Regions from separate parts of the Homo sapiens genome. Here region 1 is linked to region 2. Evidence: fine-mapped expression QTL. A gene starts in region 2. The other region holds a variant in brackets. All regions are shown on one strand. Distances are between the middles of the regions.

Region 1 (5,377 bases), 29 kb before region 2:
AGGAGACCCACCAACCCGCCTGCCCCCATCTGCCCACCTGCCGAGGCTTGCTCAGTGCCAGCCCTCTCTGCTGCGGCAGCTCCAGCCTCCGCATCCTCCAGTGTCCAGCACAAGCACAGTTTCCCCACCTGGACCCCATTGCTGGCCTTCCCATGCTGATTTGGAGTGACATCAAGACACTCACACAGTGGCCAAGGAGAAGTTGAAGGGAGGTTTCTGAATGCATCTTTCCTCCCAAACATGCTGAGCAGTTCTGCAGGGCAGAACCAGGTCACTGCACATCCCCGTGTGTCTTTATTACGATTGCTTATAAAATGAATAAACGGTCTCCCATCCGAGTACTAACCAGGCCCGACCTGTAGTCCCAGCTACTTGGGAGGCTGAGGCAGGAGAATTGCTTGAACCTGGAGCGCAGAGGACCGGCTCGAATGTGAAAACATGGGCAGGTATTTGCTAGCAAGACAGGGAACAAGCGGCTTCCTGATAATAGAAACAGAGGCGGGGGCGATGCTGAGACCTGACCCCACAGTGGTCCCTGAAGAACGAAGGGTGGGCACGGCGACGTGAGGGCCTGGGGGGCCCAGGGAATGCGGTGGGACCCTGGAGGGCACGTAGCCACGCTGGGCAATTGTGATTGGGCTGCCACGCTGGCCTCCAAGCATCGCTGAGCACAGGGGCCATGATCAGAGGTGTGTTTGCGCAAGGCCATTGCAGCAGGGTGAGGAGGGTAGATTTGGACGCGAGTGGGAATGAGGTGAGGGAGGGATGAGGGCGGGTCAGGTGGTTGCTGCGGTCAAGTCCTGGACAGCAGGAGCAGTCTCCAGGGGTGCCTCAGAGCGGACTCTAAAGGCCATCGTGTACATCTCCTCAGCTGCGGTACAGACTACCCCAAGCCAGGCAGCTTAAAACAACAGAAATGTATTCTCCCGCAATTCTGGACCGCTCGGGTCCAAAATCCAGGCGTCGACAGGGCCGTGCTAGGGCTGGAGGCTCTGGGGGAGAATCCAGAATCTGCTCCAGGTCTCTCTCCCAGCTCCCAGGGGTGCTGGGAGCCCTGGAGCCCTTTGGCTGTGGACTCATCCCTCGGATCTCTGCCTCTGCCGTCCGTGGCCTTCTCGCTGTGTGTGTTCACATCGTCTCCCTCCGCCTGTGCTGTCTCTGGGTCTCTTCTCCTCTTGTAAGGGTAGCATTCAGGGGCTTAGGGCCCACCTTAAACCAGTATAACCTCATCTTAACTTGATGACATCTGCAAAGATCCCATTTCCAAATAAGGCCACATTCACAGGTATCACGGGTTAGGGCTTCGACATGTCTTTGTTGGGGACCCAATACCACCCGTAAGAGGCCTGGTGCTTGGCGGGGGCTGCAGGAGGCAGGGCAGAGCAGGGCTTCAGCCAAGGGCCAGGTTGGCCCGGAAGCTGGTTCGATTCCCTGGAAGGGGCCGAGGGCAGGAGGTACTGTTCCGTGTGGCTTTGGGGCTTCCTGCTGCAACGGGCTCCGGGCAGAGAGGCCTCCGCTGCCTGCCAAGGTTTTAGTTGCTGCCGCTTCTCCCTTATGTTCCTCCAAATCTCCCGCTGCCCCCATCTGAACCTCAGAAGCATGCTATGGGGGCAGGGGTTCCCGGTCCTCAGCTTCAGGAGGCTGGATCTACTCCTAACTGGGGTAATCTGTTTGCTTCTTTCCCAGGGGACAGGTTCCCAAAAGGCGTACCCAGAGCAGAAAGCTGAACATCTAACCAGTCTCTGCCTCCTGATGCAGACCGATGTTGTGGGAAGACCCGAGAGTCAGGACCCAGGCGTGTGAGAGTCCAGCCCCAGTCCTGCCCTGCAGGGCCTGTTCCATCTCACCGGGCTCCAGTCTTCTCACCTAGAAAATGAGGGCTTCTGATGCAAAGTCTCTAAGGAGCTTTTCAGCTTTAAAGCGTTCTGAATCCCATTTTCCCGCTGACTGACATTCTAATTTCACAGCGGGCTTATCTCCCCCTCAGAAGGGTCTTCAGCCGCAGCAGGGCCTTCCGTTTTTGCTTAAATCGCTCTGACCTTTTTATCAAGCAGTTCATAAACGCCCTTGCGCTAGGAGCGGCCGTCGCCCTGTGGTCCCCGGAGAGGGTCCTCCGAGGACTCTGAAAGCCGCTTCCATGGTTGGCGCCGAGCACAGGCGGCTCCCTCTGGCTTCCGCAGGCACGGACGGGGTTTGCCCAGAGACACCCTGCTCAGCACTGCCAAGCTGGAAAACAAGTGGGTGGGGGCAGCCGCCGGGAGGGGCCAGCAAACCGGGCCCTCATCCAGGAGCAAATTCCACCTTCAGTGCCTCACTTTTATCTCCAGATGGGCGCGTCCTTGTGAGAAACCACAGTATTGTCCCTCACCCATGAAGGGAGGCGTGGACGTGATCCCAAAGCCCCTATGTTAGACGGTCCAGCCTCACCTGAGCAGTCACATGG[A/C]CCTGCCCGGTCCTTTGACCTCAACACCACACACTTCCCACCCCTGCGGCAGGAAGGCGAGGCAGGAAGCATCCACACAAACCTGAGTATATCACAGTGGCACCACCAACGTGCCGGCTGCAAAGTTGATTTTCTAAACCAGAGGCAGCAAAATGGACCCGCTGGGGAATTCTTGTATCTTGCCTAGCATTTATATTAATATTTGGGGGTATCATTTAATTGATTAGTCATTACTGCATACAAGGTTATAAGAGTCGAGAAGTATAAAATCTATATGTTAAAATTTTAAGAAAAAAATGTCAAGTAGAACTAGCCAGACTGACATCATTAATCTGGTACCTGCACACACTTGTCTTATAAAGTGCGAGGAAAATGGATATTTTTCTTACATATTATGCAATTATGTATGGCATATTACCTGTCTCTGTAGCTTGAAAATCATTACACTGGTCAAGCTGTCCCACTAGTAAAAGCAGACGACCACTTCATAGGTTAAAAAGACATCTGCAAGCTATTTAATACTAAGCTTCATTCCATTAACCTTCATTTTTGTCTCAAAATAATCCTGACCATTTAATATATAACCCCTCACTCCAAAAAGCATTGATTGTACTGTGAAAACATGATTCTTCAGGCATGGGATTTGCTTGTTTACCAATTATTCTCCTTTCCTGGCTAGAACCCTAAAATAATATCAGCAACTGCTGGGAGGGAGGGAGGGAAGGGGAGGAGTCAGACTCGGAGGACACGTCTGACAAAGAGGCAAAGGAAGCTCCTTGCTGCTGCTGCTGTCCTTGCTGCTGTTCTGCCTGGGCTTCGTTTTACAGGATCAATGTTGGGGTGTCACCGGGTCAACGGCAGGGAGGTCTCTCAGCAGGGACACCCAGGCCCAGCGAACACACTGATGCACCGTGCTCATATACCGGCCGGTGATCACTTCGGCTTCTTTGGGGGAAGAATTTCCGGCCTGAGCCATCACATTCCAGGGAGTTCCTGAGGACAAAGGGTATCATGGAGTCTCTGGGCACAGCCCCTCGCTCCTCTGCAGGACCTGAATGGTCACCCCACAGCAACAGAGCCGGCACACCCTCAGCACGGCTGCAGCATAGCTCTTGTCCACTCCTTCTATGGCGAGCAGGATGGCATCACCCACGGGGCCTGCCGTACCCACCAGCAGCACCTAGAGAGGGACAAGAGGAGACAGGGCACTGCCTCCTCTGGGACAGGTGTCGAATGGAGTCAAGATCTCCTGATTGTCAGAGACCAAGGGGTCAAAAGGACCCATGCCCCCAGCACCTTCCCCAGCCTATGAGCAAGCCATGGTCCCATGCTTTCCTCCAAAGCCATGGAAATGGTACTGTGGGCAGGGAGAGGTCTCTTTAGCCACAGACACCTGGCTCCCCCTTCATCTTGAGGGCAATATTTCTCTGGTGGGTTGGAAGTGCTCATTACTCACATTGGGAATGACACTTCTGGGGTGCCCAGTGTCAGGGACTTTGGGAGGGATTGCATTCCTCTCAGTAAAGTGGCAGGGAACACAGAAGCTTATGGCAAGCGTTGGACCAAATACCAATGAAAATACCAGACAGAGTAGCTTACAAACACATTTCCAAAGAATTTCCCTTGTACTCATGGATGGAGTTCACCTACCTTTCTCTCAACACTGGACTCAGGCAATGCTGGAGAGTAATCCAATTTCATGCAATTCAATGAATACAGTGAGGCCAAGGGGGAAAAGCCCCCTCCTTCCCCTGAGAAGGCTCGCAGACCTCCAGGCAAGCAAAGTGCTATGATGGGCTGTGCCGTGCGGCACAGTGGAGGGCAGAAGAAACTCACGGCATCAGCAGGGCTGGCAGGGCAGGCACTCACAGTGAGGCAGGAAGGTGAGCTCGTTGTCAGGCACAGGAGACACAAGCAGGAGGTGAAGGAGGATCAATGGGGAGACAAGCCATGAGCCGCACTCCCTGGAGAGCCAAAGGGCTAGCAGGCAGAGGAAGAGGGTGGCAGGAGGGTGTGGCTGAAGTCAAGCAGGAGAGCAGCTTTGGGGAATGGAGACCAGGATGGGCTTCCTGGAAGAGAAGTAAGGGAAGTGAGGGAGCCAGTCTGCTGCCCACCAGACCAGAGTTCACTGGGCGGGAGGGAGCTGGGAATAAAGACACAGGACCCAGCAGTCCCTCTTCCTCCTCCTGCCCTCCCACTGCCACCCACACAAAATCAGCCATGGGACACTCAGGAAAAGGAGAGTCCTCAAAACGAAGACAACAAGAGACAGAGAAAAGGCAGCAGATATTTAGATGTGTATCTAAATATCAGGGGCAATAGACACATATCCCCCATTCTGACCTCACATTTACAAATTTAATTCCATATAGATTGTAAGTCTCACCATGAAAGGTGAAATAATAAAACTTTAAGAAAATATGGGAAAAGAAAAAAAAGCACTAAAACCACAAAAGGAAAAAAAAAGGTACATTGAGCCACATGAACATAAGAAGTATTATTCATCAAAAGACACCACTGAGAGGGAAATTCAGACCACAGAAAAGACATTCATAAGACACGCATTTGGCAAAGGACTTGGGCAAATCAACAAGAAAAATCCAATAAATCCAGACAATTCAAAGAAATGGGCAAATGACTTGGACAGGTACTATGCAGAAGAGGATAGCCGCGTGGCTAGTAAACAGATGAAAAAATGGTTGATATCTCCCACAGGGCAATGCAACACCCTGCACACGTGAGAACTACTGACGTGACAAAGGCAGTACCCAGCGTGGAAGGGAGTGCAACATGAGCTCTCATCTCTATTGAGAAAGCGTTCACTCATCCATTCCAGAACAGGGTTTGCAGGATCTACTGATGCTGAGAACACATCTCCCTATGGCCCAGAAACCCTGTTCCTAGGCATTCACACAACAGCAACGAGTATGTGTG
Region 2 (5,329 bases):
ATGCATCCCCTGCATTCATAATCAGAAGAGCACAAAGGAGGATGCTCTGTATTCCTGGACTGAGAAAGCCAAAGCTGAGTCTGGAGCTACCTGAGGTGCAAGACCTTCGTCCCACCTGAAGTCAGAGACCTCAGTGGTGCCCACTGAGCACAGGTAAGGAACATGGGGCAAAGTCATCAGCAGGTGAACAGAAGATCAGAGACCAAGAAAACCACCTCTGTGTCCTGTCTTTGTAGGCAGCTGCTGCACTATAGCTAGAACTTGTATCTCTGACCTTTTGGGATGGAAAACAGCCATAACTCTTTCCCTTTACTGCTTAACGAAATCTAGTGATTTACATTTGCAGTTTTGCTGCAAGAAATACTAGAATGTTCTTGCTGTTCCAAGCCAGCACCATCAGGGAGAGGCTGCTTTGCACTGGTCAAGAAAGTATGAGTCCGGGGGTTTCGTCTTAACTCTGACACTTACTAGGTAAACAACCTATTGCAGTTACTTATCAGGTCCTTCATGTGTGAAATCAGAGATGTGACCAAATCAATGCAAGAAAACCTGGATTTTAAAAATCTAAAAGCTCATTCCTGTATGTGTTCTCAGGACTATTACTAACATAGGTGCACACAACTCTCGCACAGAAAACAGTGAGCAGCCTCCCCAAACATACTTGGAATAAGAACCCTTTCTTTCCTCCTTCGACAGAGCAGATATTTTCACCTCTCAGAACTAGCACTCCACGGGCAGTTTGGGAACATCAGACCAGCTTGCTTTTCAGGTGCTTCTGGCTGCCATTTTTTAAAAATTTACAATATAGCCCTCATAGGACTTTTCACCTCTTAAGGAAAAAAGAAAGTTTTGTGGCTGTTCTTTAGCCTAAGCAGGGCTTTGAGGACCTATGATGTATTTCATATATTTAATAAGCTTTTATTTACATGTAACTTTTTTTCCACAATAGAATATTAAGGATATTCTTTTTTTTCGTTTTGTAATGCCATTAGAACGGAAGTTCCATAAGGGCAGGTATTTTTGTATTTTTGTCTATTTTTTTTTCCACTGGCACATCCCCAGCACCCAGGCTGTGCCTACCACACAGCAGGCACTCGAATGCCAGTGATGAAGAAGTCACGATACCACACCATAACTGAACAAGATTTATACCCAAGACTAATATCAAGAATGTTACTTACTCAAAAACTTCTAACGGTACAGTAATATCATGAAGCTGCTGTCTGCACTTGTCAATATCCTGTAAGCCAGTAACAATAAAATTCCTGGGGGAAAGGCAAACACACAGGCATCTGGTTAATTTCGCTTGACAGCATAAGCACCACCCACAGAGCTACCCAGCCAACCGGGGCTCCACGCAAGTTCGTTCTCCTCACAGCTATGCGGGTTACACACGGTTCTGACCTCTTTGGTTAGCTACAGGATTCCTAGGACACCGTTAGAGTTACAAAATACCCTTAAATATTTGTTACTTTCCTTCTCAACTAGAAATTGCCAGTAAGGGGGATGGAGAGGGAACCTGATGAAAAATATGAACCTTCTCTCAAAAACAATTACCTGACTGTGCATATGACTGTGTGTGCGGTTTCAGCGAACACATGAGGCAGCGGACTATACTCAAAGTCTGAGGGAAAGAAAGCCATACTGTCTGGTTTAGCTTCCTCTCCTCTCTGGAGCCTTCCTACAGCATCAGGCTGGTCTGGCTATTCCCACAGCACTAGGTATGGAACCTCGAGTGCAACATTTTCTATGTCCGTGCCACATATAAAGCCCTTCTCGAAAGTGCTGTACTTGCATTTGCCTTTTCTCCAACCCAGGGCCTAGCAACATGGGCAGCACAAGGCTGTTGCCAAGAAATAATAATAATAAACGTTCTGCAACCTTTCTCAGCACCACCTCCCCGCTATTTCCTCCACTGTCAGGCCTATGCGGCAGGTGGCTTCGGAGCCTCACCTTCTGAGGCCTAGTTTAGGGCGTGCACTCACTGTGGAGCCTGCCTCCCCTCTGGAGACAGGGACTGAATTCCCAGAAGGGCTCCAGGAGGAAAAGGCTGGGAGGGGGTTACACATGAGAGGGGAGACGCTAGAAGAGAAAGCATGATTCCCTTGATAGGGAAACGTAAAGTATATCATCTGGCCATGACGACGTCTCCAAAGGGGCCTCAAAGAGGTTGGCTCTTGGCAACAGGCTGGAGCGCGGGCCCCGCCCTCTGAACACAGCCAGGAAAGGCGCCCCGGGCTCCGGGACCAGACCAGAGGGCTGGCGGGGCACGAGTAGCGGTCAGGCTCGGCTCGGGCTCCCTAGATCCCCGCTCCCCTAGCACACGCTTCCCGGCCAGGCCCTGGGGAGACCCCGGCAGCCTCGGGCCGCCACTCACAGCTTTTGGTTGAGCCCGGCCTGGCTGCTGGGCTGGAAGTCACTGACGATGATGCCGAGCTGCCGAATGTTCTCCACGAACTTCTCCAGGTGCTCCTCTAGGTGGTCAAACTTCTCCGCCATCGCCTCGGCCCGTCCCCGACCCACACAGCCTCAACCAGCAGCGCCGCAGGCGTGGCCCTACGCTCCCGCTTCCTGCTTCCGTCCGGACAGATACGACTTCCGTTTCCTCTGGGGGAGCGCGGGCGAGCTCTTGGGGGCGGAGCCTCGTTATCGGGACGGGCGTGTTGGGGCGGGGCCTAAGTGCGGGGCAGGGCGGGCTTTCGGGGATGCGGTCTGGATTCTGGAGGAGGCCTCGGCGCGCAGCTGGGCGAGTACTAACTGTTTGCACTCTCATCAGACCTGCCTCGGTCATGGGAGAAGTTGAAGACTTTCTGCAATGCAGCATCTTCAAGCAATACACACATGGATGAAAATCCTAAAGTTTGCATGAAGGACCAATAACGGTAGTTTCCCTGCCCCTCTACCAGAACCCCTGGGATCAGCGCCTGCCTGCCTCCTTTCTTCTATGTAATCGGCGGCCACCTCCCCTAGCTCTTGCTGCTAACCATGCTTCCCGGACACCTGCTGCCTTCGTAGGTCAGGGTCTCACCTCCTCGGGCCAATTCTGACCAAACAGCACCCTGTGGGGTTGCCCTGTCTTAGTAAACTGCTGTTTATCTCATTGAAATTCAGTTTAGGTCATTTCACTCTTATGTTTAAGAAACTTTTCTGCCCGATCTCCTATGATAGCGGATATCTCCTCTAGCCTGTTTGAATTTCTCAAGTGATTTATTTTACTGAATATATTTGTGGCCTGTACTTTTCAGTGCCTAGAAACAGGCAAAGTGAGGGAGCTCCTTTGCTAGATGATCTTCAGAGCCTCTCCCAGCTGTGACCAGAAATGGAAAGCCAGAGAAGGTAAGTGACTTGCCAAACTTATGGAATCAGGGCACTCCAGTTGGTGGGCTGGGCTGATAAACAGAAATGTTACATAAAATACTTCTCTCCTGATTTAACAACAATTAACTTTAGGGAATTATAAAACAAGATGGAGGCTGGGCGTGGTGGCTCAGGCCTGTAATCCCAGAACTTTGGAAGGCCAAGGCAGGTGGATTACCTGAGGTGAGGAGTTCGAGACCGACCTGACCAATATGGAGAAACCCTGTCTCTACTAAAAATACAAAAATTAGTCAGACATGGTGGTGTGCGCCTGTAGTCCCAGCTACTTGGGAGGCTGAGACAGGAGAATTGCTTGAACCCAGGAGGCAGAGGTTGCAGTAAGCCGAGATCATGCCACTGCACTCCAGCCTGGGCAACAGAGCAAGACTCAAAAAAAAAAAAAAAAGGTGGAAATAAAATATTAGACAAATAAAAAATTTTAAGTTATTAGGTAGAGGTAGCGACATGGAGTGAACGGCCTTTCTCAATTTCATAAGTAAGAAAGATAGATAATTGATGGAACTTAGGCTTTGGTAAGTATTTATTTTAAAAATTTAAGGGTATCTCTTTGCTAGTATATATAATTCCCAAACTAGTAGACAGGGGGAAGGGAATAAAGAAAACACAATCAACTCAATAGAAGGCAAGAAAAGAAGAGAATAAAGAAGCAAAGAACAAGCATGGAAAATAAAACTCACAACGTAAAGTGCAAAAATTAAAGGCACACGACTCAACAGCAAAAAAGCAAAAGAAGAAATTTATAAATGGGCAAAGGACCTGAACAGATACTTCTCAAAAGAAGACATAAAAATGACCAGCAAAAATGCTCAGCATCACATATCATCAGGGAAATACAAATTAAAAGCATAATGAGATGTCACCTTACACTGTTAGAAGGGCTATAATCAAAAAGACCAAAGACAATGGGTGTGGGTGAAAATGTGGAGGAAAGGGAACCCTTGTACACTGTTGATGGGAATGTAAATTAGTGCAGCCTTTATGGAAAATAGAATGGAAGTTTCCCAAAACTCTAAAAACAGAATTACCATATGATCCAGCAGTCCTACTTCTGAGTATATACTGTGAACCCTGAATATCTGAGACAGTTCTCAGTTAATTTAGAAAGTTTATTTTGCCAAGGTTGAAGACACACACTCATGACACGGCCTCAGGAGGTCCTGATGACATGAGCCCAAGGTGGTCAGGGCACAGCTTGGTTTTATACATTTTAGGGAAACATGAGACATAAATCAATATGTAAGTGTAAGGTATACACTGGTTCTGTCCAGAAAGGCGGGAAAACTCAAAGCAGGGAGGGGGCTTCCAGGTCACTGGTAGGTGAAAGACAAATAGTTACATTATTTTGAGTTTCTGATTTGCCTTTCCAAAGGAGGCAATCAGATATGCACCTATCTCAGTGAGCAAAGGGATCACTTTGAATAGAATGGGAGGCAGGTTGTCCCTGAGCATTTTCCAGCATGACTTTTCCCTTTAGCTTAGTGATTTGGGGGCCCCAAAATTTATTTTCCTTTCACAATACTCAAAGGAATTGAAATCACTATGTCAAAGAGATATCTGTGTTTCCAGAAAGAGGTCCCAGTCCAGACCCCGAGAGAGTTCTTGGATCTTGTGAAAGAAGGAATTCAGGGTGAGTCCATATAGTAAAGTAAAAGCAAGTGTATTAGTAAAATAAAGGAATAAAGAATGGCTACTCCATAGGCAGAGCGGCCCGAGGGCTACTGGTTACTTGCTGTTATGGTTATTTCTTGATTGTATGCTAAGCAAGTGGTGGCTTATTTATGCCTCCCCGTTTTAGACCATTTAGGGTAACTTCCTAACAGGTCATGGCATTTGGAAACTGTCAGGGCAGTGGTGGGAGTATAGCAGTGAGAACTCTCGTTGCCATCTTGGTTTTGGTGGGGTTTAGCTGGCTTCTTTACAGCAAACTGTTTTATCAGTGAGGTGTTTATGA

Evidence for each region. PIP is the estimated chance that this variant, and not a neighbour inherited with it, causes the effect. A credible set is the group of variants that fine-mapping cannot tell apart.
Region 1: its variant is the best candidate, but not a certain one, in a credible set for the expression of MED10 in whole blood (TOPMed, PIP 0.75).

Annotation. Positions count from the first base shown.
Region 1 is chr5:6,347,287-6,352,663 of GRCh38, forward strand. No RefSeq gene overlaps it. Among named protein-coding and RNA genes, the nearest start is that of LINC02145, 13 kb to the left of the region's middle. RefSeq lists an enhancer at 3,110-3,404. The variant A/C (reference allele first, on the strand shown) is at 2,444.
Region 2 is chr5:6,375,985-6,381,313 of GRCh38, forward strand. It overlaps MED10 (mediator complex subunit 10), which reads right to left and starts at 2,563. Exons shown (of 4, transcript NM_032286.3): 1 at 2,378-2,563; 2 at 1,182-1,265. The coding sequence starts at 2,499. RefSeq lists enhancers at 2,298-2,507, 2,798-3,017.